Regions from separate parts of the Homo sapiens genome. Here region 2 is linked to region 1. The links come from fine-mapping of genetic effects on gene expression. A gene starts in region 1. The other region holds a variant in brackets. All regions are shown on one strand. Distances are from middle to middle.

The links. PIP is the estimated chance that this variant, and not a neighbour inherited with it, causes the effect.
Region 2: its variant is fine-mapped to the expression of GSR in whole blood (INTERVAL, PIP 0.93).

What each region holds. Positions count from the first base shown.
Region 1 is chr8:30,722,710-30,731,038 of GRCh38, reverse strand. GSR (glutathione-disulfide reductase) reads left to right here and starts at 3,193. Exons shown (of 13, transcript NM_000637.5): 1 at 3,193-3,509. The coding sequence starts at 3,204. It also overlaps a transcript of UBXN8 not described here. RefSeq lists enhancers at 1,321-1,845, 3,608-4,295 and silencers at 2,933-3,022, 3,093-3,532, 6,677-6,736.
Region 2 is chr8:30,678,432-30,686,760 of GRCh38, reverse strand. GSR (glutathione-disulfide reductase) reads left to right here. Exons shown (of 13, transcript NM_000637.5): 10 at 2,562-2,673; 11 at 4,700-4,831; 12 at 5,724-5,857; 13 at 7,092-8,329. The coding sequence ends at 7,241. Among named protein-coding and RNA genes, the nearest start is that of GTF2E2, 24 kb to the right of the region's middle. The variant A/C (reference allele first, on the strand shown) is at 4,655.

The DNA.
Region 1 (8,329 bases):
TTTCCCGGGGCCCCCCTTCCCTTGCCTTTTTGTGGGAGATCCCTCTAATTGCTGCAGCTAACAGCTCGGCATTTCGCCGGGCCTGACGTTCATTCTCTCTGCGGTTTTCCTTACGGCTTACTGCATCCCTGTTTACAAACACCTGGTTAGCTATTTCTAATAATTGTGATGTGTTCATCCCTGCAAACCCAGCCTGTTTCTGCAGTTTTCTTCTAATGTCTTCTGCGCTTTGACTAACTAAAGCCATGTTAATCATGCGTTGATTTTCAGGGCTATCGGGATCAAAGGGAGTATACATGTGATAGGCCTCACACAGTCTCTCGTAGAATTGTGCTGGACTTTCTTCTTTTCCCTGAATGACCTCAGAGAACTTATTAACGTTTGTGGCCTTCTGGGCTCCCCTCTAATCCTTCTAAGAGAGCTTCCCTGTATCGGTTTAGCCTTTGCATATCCTCTCTTTCATTTGGGTCCCACTGGGGGTCGGTTCCCGGTAACTGGGTCCTTACATACTCTTGGGGGTTTTGGTAATCAGCCGGTGCATGTTCCCCTAGCCACTTAGTTGCTGCTTGGAGCACTCTCCGCCTTTCATCTGTGTTAAAGAGGAACATGAGCAACTGGTGGCAATCAGCCCAAGTGGGGTTATGGGTCTGGATAATAGTTTGGAGCAAATCAATTAGAGCTTGTGGCTTTTCAGTACAGGACGGGGTATTGTTTTTCCAGTTGAGAAGGTCGGCAGAGGTGAAGGGCTGGCACACAAAAACACGCCTCTCCGCCATGTGCCCATCCTCATCTATTCCAGTATACCGCTGCTCTCTCAAGGGCATTTGTATCCCCGTTTTGGGTCTTAAACGAGCTGCCAAGGGAGGGGTTTCTCCTGAGGCTTCACCTCCTCTCTTGTCTACTCTGGGTGGCCTAGGGATATGTTTGTCTTGCGGAGGCACAAGCACTGTGGACTCAAAAGTGGGGAGCCTCTCTCCCTGGTAAGGGGAGGGCACCACTGGGATGACTTTTGCCATCTCCTGCAATGGATCGTCTGATGTTGGGTCGAACAGAACTTCAGGAGTTGATTTCCCTCGGTGGGTGGAGCGGGATCCTTCCTTGACTATCTGTCCCTTTGCTACTAGCACTGCTGCTGCCTGCCCTCTTACCCACTGTGGTAACCAAGTGTCTATGTATGGAAACTGGTCTGAGTGTCCTGACTTACCAGTTACCTTGTGCCATACCTTAGAAACAAGGGACCTGTCCAGGCTTCCTTCTGATGGCCAACCCACTTCTAATGTTGGCCAATCTATTTCACACAAAGTTCTAAGTTTCCCTGGTGTCATAGTAACCCCATAGTCGCCATTAAATCCCTTCTTAAAATTTTTCAACATAGTTCCTAGAGGAGTAGGCTTATTTTGTGTCTGACCCGTGTTTCCTCAAGACAAAACACCAAGCTCACACCAAACGCACACCACAAAACAAAGAATGGGTAAAAAGGGCACACACGCACTTTTTCAGTTTTCACCAAACCAGAATCAAAACCAAAATCAGAGTATCCAGTAATCCAAGCCAGGTCAAACCAAAACCAAAGTGTCAAGCAATTCAAGTCAAGTCAAAAACAAAAACCAAAGTGCCAGTACAGGCACGCCGTGGGTGATCAGGCCATGCTTCCACTCAAATGGAGTGGGCAAGTTCCGAAGACCAGTCTTACCAAGTTTCAAATGTCCGGACTCCAAGTGCCTGTTCCTTCCCGGTGTTCAGCCACTGCGTTGATACTCCACGGGGGCCTGCCACGCACTGCTCTGACTAGGCGTTCCACCGGGGCAATTGCCTACCCAGGAGCGCTCGCAGGATCCGCGTCGCTCAAGCTGGCGGGAGTTCCCCGCAGGGATGCTCCACAGGGCAGGCCTAAGCCCCCTAAGGGGCTGCCTCGACTGTCCGTCAATTACCTCGCTTCCCAGTCAGGGAACCAAGAAATATAGCAGGATGAGTCACAGACAAAACTCCTCAGACACCAGATTAAAGCAGGAAGAGGTTTTTTATTCGGCCAGGAGCGTTGGCAGACTCGCGTCTTGAGAGCCGAGCTCTCCGAAAAAGAAATTCCTAGCCCTTTTAAGGGCTTACAACTCTAAGGGGTCTACGTGAAAAAATCATAATAGATCAAGTAAGCGTGGGAAACGTGACTGGGGGCTATATACATCAGCTAACAGAACAAAAAGTTTTACAGTGCTTTCTCATACAATGTCTGGAATTTACAGATAACACCAATAGTTTTGGTCAGGGGTTAATAATATTATTATTATCTTAGCCACCAGGGCCAGGTGGTGGTGCCAAGGTCGTCTAGCTATTTATCTTACTTCTGTTTCTTTCCAACTTTTTGCTTTCTCCCTTTTCTCCTGTCTTATAAACTAGGGAAAAGGGGAGGTTGGGGAGAAACTGAGAAGGACAACAGGAGAAGTGGTGACCTCATACCATAATCCTAGCATTTTGGGAGGCCGAGGTGAGAGAATCGCTTGAGGCCAAGAGTTCCCTACCAGTCCTGGTAACATAGTGAGACCCTATTTCTAAAAAAAAAATAAAAATAATAAAAAAAATAAAAAAAAAAATTAAATAAATAAATAAATAAATTAGCTGGGCGCTGTGGCGGGCACCTGTAGTTCCCAGCTACCGGGAAGGCTGAGGAGGGAGGATCGCTGCTTGAGCACAGTAGGTGGAGGCTGCAGTGAGCAGAGATCGCATCACTGCACCCCTGCCTGGGGGAGAGTGAGACCCAGTCTCAAAGAAAAAGCAAGAACAAACAAAAGTGGTCTCTGGAACAAACCTGGACAAACAACCCTTCGAATAGAGGCAAATTTCTCTTCCTGGAGAAGCCGTGCCACTGGCAACTCCCCAGGGGGCCAGCTCGGGAAAAGCCAGCTGAAACGAGAGGACGTTCACCGTTCCTCGCCTCGATCCACCGGACTTCAGAAGGCTACACGCGGCAGGCGCCGCTCGGGATCCAGGGGCCGGGGTGAGAACGGAGGCGGAGAAACCCCTCAGGCTCCGCCACCGGGGCGGGGAACTGGGAGGCGGCCCCGCCTCTGGGCATCCTCCTGGGTCTTGCCTAGCGGCGGGCGCATGCTTAGTCACCGTGAGGCTGCGCTTGCCCGGGGCCCGCGCCCCCCTACCCCGGGGACCGCCCCCGGGCCGCCCGCCCCACTTGGCGCGCCACTTCCGCGTGCATGGCCCTGCTGCCCCGAGCCCTGAGCGCCGGCGCGGGACCGAGCTGGCGGCGGGCGGCGCGCGCCTTCCGAGGCTTCCTGCTGCTTCTGCCCGAGCCCGCGGCCCTCACGCGCGCCCTCTCCCGTGCCATGGCCTGCAGGCAGGAGCCGCAGCCGCAGGGCCCGCCGCCCGCTGCTGGCGCCGTGGCCTCCTATGACTACCTGGTGATCGGGGGCGGCTCGGGCGGGCTGGCCAGCGCGCGCAGGGCGGCCGAGCTGGGTGCCAGGGCCGCCGTGGTGGAGAGCCACAAGCTGGGTGGCACTTGCGTGAGTACCGCCGGTTTGTTCGGGCGGGGGGCGCCTCTTTGTCTCGGTCTTTCGGGGGACAGCCTGTGCTCGTTCCTATGGCGATCCTGTCCCCCGGCGCTGGGCTTTCCTCTTTTCCACCCCCGCAACTCCCCATTCCGAAGCCAGGAACCCAGCAGGTGGAGGAGAGAGAGGCGTCCGGGGGCTTCTCTGCGGCCCGCAAAGCCGAGCCAGCGTCTGCTTCCGCACGGATGCGATATTGACCAGGGCCGGGGCGGGTTAGATTAACCTTCCTCCATCCTCACTTGTCCAAGTGGGAGAGGATTGGATTCTGTTCTTGACCGCGTGAAACACAAAACTGCATCTGGGAACATTGCTGGTGGCCTGTGTGTAGGGACGAGGGTGACGGTGCCATAGATCCTGGTTCTTGAAAAATGTAGATCCTGGTTCTCCCGTTTCAAGGGCAGAATGATTTATAGCGGTTGTTGTCAACCTTGGCTACACATTCGAATCACCTGAGGGTGCCTGGATTCCCGACTTAATTGGTCTGAGGTGCACTTGGGCTTTGGGATGTTTCCCGACTTAATTGGTCTGAAGTGCAGCCTGGGCTTTGGGATTTTCGGGTGATCTGAATTGCAGCCAAGGCGACCTTGAGTAGGTGAGTTCTCAGAGCTTTTGTTTTGTCTTGGTTTTATGTGGATTGCAAAACTAAAAACAGAGGGATGTAAATCCTGAGATTTACAAAATTCATAATTTTTGAAAATAAGGGTTTTTGTTTGTGTTTGTTTTTTGAGACAGGGTCTTGCCCTGTCACCTAGGCTAGAGTGCAGTGGCCATCATAGCTCACTGCAGCCTCGAACTCCCGGGCTCAAGGGATCCTCTCACCTTGGCCTCCTGAGTAGCTGGAACTACAGGGGGCTAATCACCACGCCTAGTTAATTATTATTATTTTTTGTAGAGATGGGGGTCTCGCTATGTTGCCCTTGCTGATTTCAACCTCTTGGACTCAACCGATCTTCCCGCCTCAGCCTCCCAAAGTGCTGGGATTACAAGCCTGAGCCACTGCACTCATTCTAAAAATAAATGTTGTTTCCAAGTTATTGGTGTGCCCGCCCTTTTCTATCACAAGATTTGGGTGTTGACGATTAAAATGCTGTATCCAAGAGGAACCTGGGATTTGGGATAGGTTCTCTAAATTCCTTTGGAGATGAATATTTAAATTATGTCAAATTGGGAGCTCTTTAAGGACAGGGATGGGCTTCTGTGTTTGTGTGTCTCTTATCACCTTAAAATCCCTTGCTCAATAAGCACTTGTGCAATGAATGAAACTAAAAATGGACAGTTATGAAAAGGTTGACTTCATTGTTCAGTGCCTTGGAGATGAACATGGAGATGAAGAGAAAGGAAAAATCTCTGTTAATTATCAACTTGCACTTTGACACCATAGTCCAGACAGAAGGTTAGAAATCTGTCTCTCCAGAAGGCAGATTGTGGGGTGCCACTAAGTGCCCCCCTCCCACACCTCATGAGAGTACTTGATCACTTCTCACTTCTGTTCTGCTCTCCACATTTTCTCTGTCTTCCTCTTTCTCTACTTATGTTATAATGTGCTTCAGAGGTTCACCCACTTTACCTTCCTGTTATGAATTCTTTTTTTTTTTTTTTTTTTGAGAGGGAGTCTCACTCTGTCACCCAGGCTGGAGTACAGTGGTGCAATCTGGGCTCACTGCAACCTCTGCCTCCCAGGTTCAAGCAGTTCTCCCGTCTCAGCCTCTCGAGTAGCTGGGAATGCAGGTGCATGCCACCATGCCCGGCTAGTTTTTGTACTTTTAATAGAGATGGGGTTTTGCCATGTTGGCCAGGCTGGTCTCAAACTCCTGACCTCTGGTAATCCACCCACCTTGGCCTCCCAAAGTGCTTGGATTACAAGCATGAGCCACCACACCCAGCTAATTTTTTATTTTTAAAATGTATTTATCTATTTTTTTTTCGATATGGAGTCTTGCTCTGTCACCCAGGCTGGAGTGCAGTGGTGCAATCTCGGCTCACTGCAACCTCCGCCTCCTGGGTTCAAGCAACTCTCCTGCCTCGGCCTCCCAAATTGCTGAGATTACAGGTGCCACTACACCCAGCTAACTTTTGTATTTTTAGTAGAGCCAGGCTGGTCTTGAACTCCTGACCTTGTGATCCGCTCACCTCAGCCTCCCAAAGTGCTGGGATTACAGGCGTGAGCCACCACGCCTGGCCTGTTTTTATTTTATTTATTGTTTTTTAGAAACAGGGTTTTGCCATGTTGCCCAAACTGGTCTCTTATGCCTGTGCTTAAGCAGTCGGCCTGCCTTGGCCTCCCAAAATGCTGGGATTACAGGCATCAGCCACCACTCCTGTCCCATTTTTTGTATTTTAAGTGCTGGGATTGGGGGTGGGTAGGGAGAAAACGATAGATATAAACATTTGTGAGACATGTCCCTTCCCTTAAGGAATTTTGTGGTTGTGAAAGAAAAAAATATTGGAACCCCAAAGTATGCCAGAAGGAAAGTTCAGCTTGGGAACTGAATCACACAAATACTGCTTTTCCTTTTGTTCCCAAACAGACAGCTGTAATTTCACAATCCCATGTCATAGCCTTATCTCCTCTACTCCTGCTTTTCACTTTTACTTTATCTTATGTAAAATGTAGATTTACTGAGGCTCATAAGAACCTCACAAGAATGTAACCATCTAGGCTGGGCGTGATGGCTCACGCCAGCACTTTGGGAGGCCAAGGTGGGCAGATCACCTGAGGTCAGGAGTTCGAGACCAGCCTGGCCAACACGGTGAAACTCCGTCTCTACTAAAAATACAAAAATTAGCCGGGTGTGGTGGCACATGCTACTTGGGAGGCTGAGGCATGAGAATCACTTGAGCCCAGGAGGCAGAGGTTGCAGTGAGCCAAGATCATGCCTCTGCACTCCAGTGTGGGCAACAGAGTGAGACTCTGTCTCAAAAAAAAAAAAAAAAAAAAAAGGTGGGGGGTTGGGTAGTATTCTTTGACATTCGGAACCTCAAAAGATGGGTCCCAGGCCTAGGCATCAAAACGGGATATGTTGTGTAATCAAATTTGGAGCACAGAGTGTCTCTTTAATAGAAATAAGAGATGAGAAGCTGATGGGTAGGTTGTGGTTTGAAAAATGTGGAGTTTCTGGACACACAGTGAACTATGGGGGCAGGGGTGGGTTTGAGCAAACCAGTGACTCAGTGAAAGTAGTTTTGTGGTAAGCCATAGGATTGAGATCTCACCCTTGGCGATGCCCAATAGAAGTTTGTCTTTCTGTCTTTTTCTTTTTCTTTTCCTTTCAGTTTATAGAGATAGGGTCTCACTACATTGCCTAGGCTGGTATTGAACTCCTGGACTCAAGCAATCCTCCTGCTTTGGTCTCCGAAAGTGTTAGGATTACAGGCGTGAGCCACTGTGCACGGCAGAAGTTTAAGATTGGTTCTCCCATGAGTTCTTTCCTAAATAAAATCCATTAATTTCTAACGCTTGGGGAAGTTTTAAAGTTGTGGTGAATGAACTCACACGGAAGGTTCAAATTAGAATGTGTGTCTAGCAGTGGTCATTTACAGGTAGTGAGATTGGTTGGTTTTTCATTGTTTTATCAGTGTTCCTTCATTTAATTGTTCAACCGTTAAAGTTTATGGGAGGCCATTGTTTTGGACCAGTCTCCTGTACTAGGTCCCAGCAGACCTGGGTGTGTGTGTGTGTGTGTGTGTGTGTGTGTGTGTGTTTGTTGCTCTGTCACCCAGGCTGGAGTGCAGTGGGGTGATCTCGGCTCACTGCAACCTCCGTCTCCTGGGTTCAAGGAATTCATGTGCCTCAGCCTCGTAAGTAGCTGGGACTACAGGCGCAGGCCACCACGCCTGGCAAATTTTTTGTATTTTTAGTAGAGATGAGGTTTCACCATGTTGGCCAGGCTGATCCCGAACTCCTGACCTAAAGTGATCCACCCGCCTCAGCCTCCCAAAGTGCTGGGATTACAAGTATGAGCCACCGCGTCTGGCATGTTGTTTCATTTTTAAGAGACAGGGTCTCCCTCTGTTTCCCAGGCTGGAGGGCAGTGGTGTGATCTCAGCTCACTGTAGCCTCAAACTCCTGGGCTCAAGCGATCCTCCCACCTCAACCTCCCGACTAGCTGGTTCTGCAGGTAGATACCACTGAGCCTTGCTTGAATTCAGCATTTCAAGTCTCCAAAAGGTTAAGTATATTGCTTATCTCATGATCTCGTGTAGACTGGAGAGAAATGCAAAGATCGCCCAAAGTCAAGGTGAATTAGAGCCTTCTGGGAGCTTTGCCTCTGTGGTTCGCTTCTCTGCCTACACACGTGATGGGAGAGTCAGCTTAAGGAAAAGTTGTTTCTAAATTGCTGCTCCCTTTGCCCCAGGGCCTGGGGAACTTGCGGTCCTGGGTTCCTGCTGAGTGTACTGATTCTGTGATAAGAATAACCAGGTTCCTGTGGTTTTGGCGAGTAGTACTTACCAATGAGAGTTGGGTAGTAAGGGTTGATCATGTGACAAAAGTTCATGATTGCCAAGTCACAGTGAACTATGCTGCACAGCAGCAGTTGGAGAGGCCTAGGGGAGAGAGAGGTAGGGGCTTTGAAAGATCAGTGAACAGCAGGCTGCTCAGTGAATCATTGTTCATCTAGGCTGAAAACAATTACCCAGCAACATGTAAATCATAACCTCATTTGGAAGTGATACTGTGTACTTTGATATTATGATGTCTATACCCTGGTAAAGCTGAACACTGGACATGCTTTTTTTTTTTTTTTTTTTTTTTGAGACAGGGTCTCATTGTGTCA
Region 2 (8,329 bases), 44 kb after region 1:
TTGTACAGATGTAAGCACTGATAGGTCCAGTTTTCAACTAAATTTGCTAACTTTTTTTGGGGGGGTTGGATAGGGTCTTGCTCTGTCACCTAGGCTGGAGTACAGTGGTGCCATCATGGCTCACTGCATCCTTGCAGCATCAAACTCCTGGGCTCAAGCCATCCTTCTACCTTAGTCTCCCAAGTAGTAGGAACTACAGGCGTGGTCCACCACACCTGGCTAATTTTTAAAAAAAATTTTTGTAGACACAAGGTCTCGCTGTATTACCCAGGCTAATTTTGAACTGGGCTCAAGCGATCCTTCCACCTCAGCTTCCCAAAGTGCTGGGATTACAGGCATGAGCCATTGCACCCAGCCTATATTTGCTAAATTTTTGAAGAATGAGGCAAAAAAAAAAGGTTCAGTCTCATTTGACATTAAGATATATTTATATAATGCAAATTGAGTGATTACTATGTGCTAGGTCTTGTCAACATGTTACTAATCTAATTTAATCTTGCCAACAACCGGCAAGGTATAAGGAAGCCAGGAGCACAGAGATACTAGATAATTTACTGGGCTGTAAACTCTATGGTGTAGGGAGAATGTCTGTCTTACCATGGTATTCTCAGTGATGAAGTCAAAGTCTCATTTGTAATAGAAGCTTAAATATTTGTTGATAAACAGGTGGTTATACAAGGTCTCATAACCGGTAAGTTGCAGAGCTAGGATTTGAATTTTGGTCTGTCTGTACCAAAGGTTGTACTCTTTTTTTTTTTTTTTTTTTTTTTTTTTTGAGGCAGAGTCTCTTTCTGTTGCCCAGGCTGGAGTCAGTGGTGCCATCTCAGCTTACTGCAATCTCCGCCCCCTGGGTTCAAGTGATTCTCCTGCCTCAGCTTCCCAAGTAGCTGGGACTTGCCAAGTAGGTGGGCATGCACCACCATGCCTGGCGAATTTTTAGTATTTTTAGTAGAGACAGGGTTTCACCATGTTGGCCAGGCTGGTCTCAAACTCCTGACCTCAGGTGATCCGCCCGCCTTGGCCTCCCGAAGTGCTAGGATTTACAGGCCTGAACCACTGCGCCTGGCCAGTTGTACTCTTAAGCTCTGTGGCTACTTACTTCCTACTTCTGCCATATCTCTACTTCTCATATATACTTAGGATTTGCAAAGCCACATGATAAGCATAACATGTCTTCTTAAAGCAAAAATTTGACTACATATAGGAAAATATTTTTGGTTAAGGGAAACATCAATATGTGTTTTTGTTTTGTTTTGCTTTTACTTTTCTTCTGGGAGTCTGAAAAAAACATCAGTATGTTTTAGAGTAGAGTGCAAAAGTTGCTTGGATTTTTAAAGACAAAATGGTAAGCTTCATAGAAATGTGCTTTTGGCCAGGCATGGTGGCTCACACCTGTAACCCCAGTGCTTTGGGAGACCTAGGCGTGAGGATCACTTGAGGCCAGAAGTTTGAGGTCAGCCTGGGAAACAGCAAGACCTATTCTATAAAAAAATGTTAAAAAGGCTAGGCGTGGTGGTTCACGCCTGTAATCCCAACACTCTGGGAGGCCGAGGCAGGTGGATCACGAGGTCAGGAGATCAAGACCATCCTGGCTAACATGGTGAAACCCCGTCTCTACTAAAAATACAAAAAAATTAGCTGGGTGTGGCGGCGGGCACCTGTAGTCCCAGCTACTCGGGAGGCTGAGGCAGGAGAATGGCGTGAACCTGGGAGGCAGAGCTTGCAGAGAGCCTAGATCGCGCCAGCCTGGGCGACAGAGCGAGACTCCATCTCAATAAATAAATAAATAAATAAATAAATAAATAAATAAATAAATAAATAAATAAATAAATGTATGTTAAAAAATTATCCAGGTGTGATGGCACATGCCTCTAGTTCTAGCTACTCGGGAGGCTAAGCAGGAGGATTGCTTAAGCCCAGGAGGTCAAGATTGCAGTGAGCCATGATCACACCACTGCACTCCAGCCTGGGTAACAGAGCGAGACCCTGTCTCTAAAAAAAAACTAAATAAACATAGATATGCTTTTGGTGACTGCTTGAGTCAGTGTTCCTCAGGAGCAGTGCTTCCATGGGACAAGTTGAAAAGCTGGACTCCAGAGGGATTCCAAGTGGCACACCTGATAGTTGAGTGATCCTCTTCATGTCTGCCTGGCCAGTTGAATTGTACATTGCAATGTCAAATCCTGTTAAAACATCTCAAAAGTGGATAAAATACTACCTTTTATGTTAAGCAAGATATGAAACTTGCCAACTTTTTTTTTTCTAATTTCTAACAGAGGCAGGGTCTCACTGTGTTGCCCAAGCTGATCTCAAACTCCTGGGCTTAAGGGATCCTCCCTCTTCGGCTTCTCAAAGTTCTGGGGTTACAGGTGTGGGCCCACTGTACCCAGCTTGAAACTTGCCAGCTGTAAATGCCTTTCGTGTTGCAGCTGAGTCTCATGGTTTCTTGGAGATTCTGGCTGCAGTTCCCATGTGAAATGAGGAAGGGAGATCCAGAGGTTTGATCTACCTTTTTTAGTAGGTGGGCCAAGTGGTTACATGATATCTCTTTGTAATTTTAGGGGATTCAAACCGATGACAAGGGTCATATCATCGTAGACGAATTCCAGAATACCAACGTCAAAGGCATCTATGCAGTTGGGGATGTATGTGGAAAAGCTCTTCTTACTCCAGGTAAGGTCTCTTCCCTTCTTGGTGAGGGAGGGTCTGCGTGTTACATGATCCATCTGGCTCTTCACTGTCAAATCTGCAGTCTGCTTAAGCAAAGTTAAAAGGATGAGTGTCTTTATATTGTCAAAATGGTACAATGTGTTGAAATAGATATTGGTTGGATACCTGACATTATCTGAATAAAAGACTTAAAATGCTTAGCACAGACTGAAGTTTTCATGTAGACAATATGATCACCCGTTGCGGAACTCTCTTAGGAGCAGACTTGTGCTTGGTGGCAGTGGAAGGAAGTGGCATTTGGAAGAAGTAATTTAGATTGGCATTTTTTTTTTTTTTGGAGACACTCTGTTACCCAGGCTGGAGTGCAGTGGCATGATCACGGGCTCACTGCAGTTTCAACCTTCCTGGGCTCAGGTGATCCTCCCACCTCAGACTCCCAAGTAGCTAGGATCACAGGTGCATTTTTTGTAGAGACAGGGTTTTACCATGTTGTCTTGAACCCCTGTGCTTAAGCAGACTGCCTGCCTCAGCCTCCCAGAATGTTAGGATTACAGGCATGAGCCACCACACATGGCCTAGATTGTCATTCTTGTATGACTGGTCTTGATACAACCAAGACTGATTTCCTTCTCTCCGGCATCCCACACCTCAGCCCGCTTCCTAAGCACCATTGCAAGCTCTGTCCCATCTCTATCCATTAATGATCACTTGATCTACTTTCAGTCTGTACCTAGAACCTCATCAGCGATTCCAGCGTGTCCCAGGGCCTTATATCAGGATGAAAACCTACACCAGTCACACACCCAAACCCTTTTAGCTCCTTTAGAAAGTTCTTGCTCTTGGCTAGGTGTGGTGGCTCCCATCACTTTCAGAGGCTGAAGTTGGGGGATCGCTTGAGTCTAGTAGTTTGAGACCAGGCTGGGCAACATAGTGAGATGTTGTCTGTATTAAAAAAATAAAGATTCAGCTGGGCACGGTGGCTCACGCCTGTAATCTCAGCACTTTGTGAGGCCGAGGTGGGCAGATCACGAGGTCCAGAGATCGAGACCTTCCTGACCAACATGGTGAAACCCCATCTCTGCTAAAAATACAAAAATTAGCTGGGCGTGGTGGCACACGCCTGTAGTCCCAGCTACTTGGGAGGCTGAGGCAGGAGAATTGCTTCAACCCGGGAGGCAGAGGTTGCAGCGAGCTGAGATGGCGCCACTGCTCTCCAGCCTGGCAACAAGAGCGAGACTCTGTCTAAAAAAAAAAAATAATAATATAATAATAATGATAATAATAATAAAGATTCTAGGCGCAGTGGCTCATGCCTGTAATTCCAGCACTTTAGGGTTATAAAATAGAACTAAAGATGCTGAAAACTAATATAGCTTGTTCCATAAATATTGTATTAAAAAGCTAATATCTTCATTAAGTAGATTAACTGCCAGGTAAGTGAGAACTTGTGAATGTGTCTTTTGGGAGTGGGGCCAGACAGGTTGAGCATCCCTTATCTGAAATGCTTGGGACCAGAAGTGTTTTCAGTTTCAGATTTTGGAATATTTGCATATATATAATGAGATATTTTGCAGATGCGACCCAAGTCGAAACACGGAATTCATTTGTTTTACATACACCTTATACACATAGTTGGTAGGTAACTTTATACGATATTTTAAATGTGTGCATGAGGCATACTTTTGTCTGCGTTTTTGACTGCAACCCTTCACATGAGGTCAGGTGTGGAATTTTCTGCTTGTGGCATCATGGTGCTCCAACATTTTGGATTTTGGATTTTGAATTTCTGGATTAGGGATGCTCAACCTGTAATAGAATGTATAGGATTCTCATAAGCCAATCATTTTGAGTTGTTCGCTGAGGCATGACATATCTTCGCTGTATTAAACTATCTAGATAGTGTAATGAACAATGGTGTGAAACTGTCAGAACTAGGGCATTAAGGTAGATGGATAAATGGCTAGTGGAACAATTTAGCTATGTT[A/C]AAACAGACAGTAAGATAAACACTGATTTTAAAATATCTCCATAGTTGCAATAGCTGCTGGCCGAAAACTTGCCCATCGACTTTTTGAATATAAGGAAGATTCCAAATTAGATTATAACAACATCCCAACTGTGGTCTTCAGCCACCCCCCTATTGGGACAGTGGGACTCACGGAAGGTAGGTATTTAAAAACTGAAGGTCATTTGTGGTTTCCTTCCTCTTTCCCCTGCCCCCAACTTTAAATTAGGTCTCTGTCAGCTGATGAAACCTATCTCAGCCCCAGATTACATTGCTTTTTGGTTACTCTCTTGTCACAGTTCCAGTTTTCTCCCCTGCTACTACTTTGAGTGTACAGTATCTTTCCTTCACACCACCCTATCTCTTTGATCTTTTTTTTTTAGCTTTTTTATTTGAACTAATTTTAAATTTAAAGAAAAGCTCTAAAAATAATACAAAGGACTCCTCTCTAACCTTAATATTTTTGCTTTTTTATTTTTTCACTCTACACACACACATGTCTATCTTTCCTAAGAACTGGCCCTTACATAAACCGAGTATCATTTTCTTTTTTTTTTTCTTTTTGAGACAAGCTCTCCCACTGTCACCCAGGCTGGAGTGCAGTGGCACGATCTCTGCTCACTGCAACCTCCGCCTCTGGGTTCAAGCAATTCTTCTGCCTCAGCCTCCCGAATAGCTGGGACTACCAGGCCTGCACCACCACCATGCCTGGCTAATTTTTTGTAGAGATGGGGTTTCACTGTGTTGCCCAGGCTGGTCTCAATCTCCTGGGCTCAAGCGATCCACCTGCCTCTGCCTCTCAAAGTGCAGGGATTACAGGCATGAGCCACTGTGCCTGGCCTTTCTTTTCATCTAGAGGCAGAATTCCTCAGCCCTTCTTTTGTCTTATATGACACTGACATTTATTTTGTAGAATACTTCTCATTTTGGCGTGGTTTGATATTTCCTCGTGGTTTGATTGAGGTTATGTATTTCTGGTCATCTCCCTCTTTGATAGTTCAGTGTAATTGTTTAGTTTTCTGATAGATGCTTTTTTTAATGTGCATTGTAGATGAAGCCATTCATAAATATGGAATAGAAAATGTGAAGACCTATTCAACGAGCTTTACCCCGATGTATCACGCAGTTACCAAAAGGAAAACAAAATGTGTGATGAAAATGGTCTGTGCTAACAAGGAAGAAAAGGTAAGGAAAAATCCAGCAAACTAAATAGTGCCTTGCAAAATGGACAGGGATGGCAGTATTTTGCAGGGGTGGAAAGGAGGGAGACCAAGCAGTTGAGCCTTCTGATTCAACTGGACAGGCCCACTTTGATCTGTCTTACCTGCATTTTGGGGTTCTTCATAATATTTCATCTAGAAGGAGGTTCCACTCCTTTTAAAAAATAAAGACGATGCCAGGCGTGGTGGCTCACACCTGTAATCCCAGCACGCTGGGAGGCCGAGGCAGGCATATCACCTGAGGTCAGGAGTTTGAGACTAGCCTGACCAACGTGGTGAAACCCTGTCTCTACTAAAAACACAAAAATTAGCCAGGCATGATGGTGCGTGCTTGTAATCCCAGCTACTCGGGAGGCTGAGGCAGGAGAATCACTTGAACCTGGGAGGCGGAGGTTGCAGTGAGCCAAGATCATGCTACTGCCCTCCAGCCTGGGAGACAAAGCGAGACTCCATCTCAAAGCAAAAAAAAAAAAAAAAAAAAAAAAAACAGGAGAGGCCAGGGCCAGGCGCTGTGGCTCACGCCTATAATCCTAACACTTTGGGAGGCCAAGGTAGGCGGATTGCCTGAGCTCAGGAGTTTGAGAGTAGCTTGGGCAGCATGGTGAAACCCCATCTCTACTAAAAATACAAAAATTGGCCGGGCATGGTGGTGCCATGAACATTCCTCAGTAGCCTATGATTTCTGGATATTGAATCATGAAGGCTCCTACTTAGTTATTTCTTCATGCCAGTTATCATTCATTCAGTTGATAAACATTATTTGTCATTCTTCTCAAGACTAAGAACTGCTATATAGAGAGGAATAATATGAAGAGCTGGCCATCACCAGAGGCTCTTTATAAGTTCAATTAAGATCACAATATCAGTCAGACACCGTGGCTCACCCCTGTAATCCCAGCACTTTGGGAGGCTGAGGTGGGTGGATCACTTGAGCCCAGGAGTTCAAGACCAGCCTGGCCAACATGGTGAAACCCTCTCTCTGCTAAAAATACAAAATTAGCCAGGCGTGGTGGTGCGCGCCTGTAATCCCAGCTACTCGGGAGGCTGAGGCAGGAGAATCACTTGAACCCGGGAGGTGGAGGTTGCAGCGAGCCGAGATCATGCCATTGCACTCCAGCCTGGGCAACAAGAGTGAAACTCCGTCTCAAAAAAAAAAAAAAAAGAAGAAAGAAAAGAAAATGTTTCTCTTCTTTTCCCAGGTGGTTGGGATCCATATGCAGGGACTTGGGTGTGATGAAATGCTGCAGGGTTTTGCTGTTGCAGTGAAGATGGGAGCAACGAAGGCAGACTTTGACAACACAGTCGCCATTCACCCTACCTCTTCAGAAGAGCTGGTCACACTTCGTTGAGAACCAGGAGACACGTGTGGCGGGCAGTGGGACCCATAGATCTTCTGAAATGAAACAAATAATCACATTGACTTACTGTTTGAGTTTTATGTATTTCTTTATTTTAATCAGGATCTTCTGATAGTGGAAATTTTTAGTACATAATAGAACTTATTTATGGAGTTAGAAATTTGTAGTGTTATCCAGGATTGATTTTCATTTGATCACATCTCACAGTAATTAATATTTTCAAGTTTTTTTTTTATTAACAGCTCTGTGCTAGTTTTTTTTTTCTGTTTTAGCCTCATCCCAAATATAAAGCTTTGTGAAGTACAATTAACTTAATGTACTTGAATGAATAGAACTTGCTACTTTTTTTTTTTTTTTTTTTGAGACAGAGTTTTGCTCTCATTGCCCAGGCTGGAGTGCGGTGGTGCTATTTCAGCTCACCACAACCTCTGCCTCCTGGGTTCAAGTGATTCTCCTGCCTTAGCCTCCCGAATAGCTGGAATTACAGGCACGCACCACCATGCCTGACTAATTTTGTATTTTTAGTAGACATGGGGTTTCTCCATGTTGGTCAGGCTGGTCTCAAACTCCCACCTTCAGGTGATCCGCCCACCTCGGCCTCCTGAGGTGCTGAGATTACAGGCGTGAGCCACTGTGCCAGCTTGCTAATTTTCACAGAAGTTGATGGCAATTCTTCACATGTAAACAGTGCCAGTGCACAGAACCTTTATATATTTTTTGAAGCCAGTACTGTGCTCTGCATATAACAAAGCTGCTTCAAGGATGAGACCTTTTTCTAAAAGCATGTAATGTGAGAAGCCGGCCTGCCTTATTTTCTTTTTTCTTTTTTAATGATTAAAAATAGTTTGTGGCAAGGCACGGTGGCTCAGGCCTGTAATTCTAGCACTTTGGGAGGCCGAGGCAGGAGGATTACTTGAGCCTACAAGTTTGAGGCCAGCATGCACAGCATAGCAAGACTGCATCTCTACAGAGAGTAAAAAAAATTACCCGAGTGTGGTGATGTGCATCTGTAATCTCAGCTACTTGGGAGGCTGAGGTGAGAGGATCACTTGAGCTTGGGTGAGGTGAGGCTGCAGTGA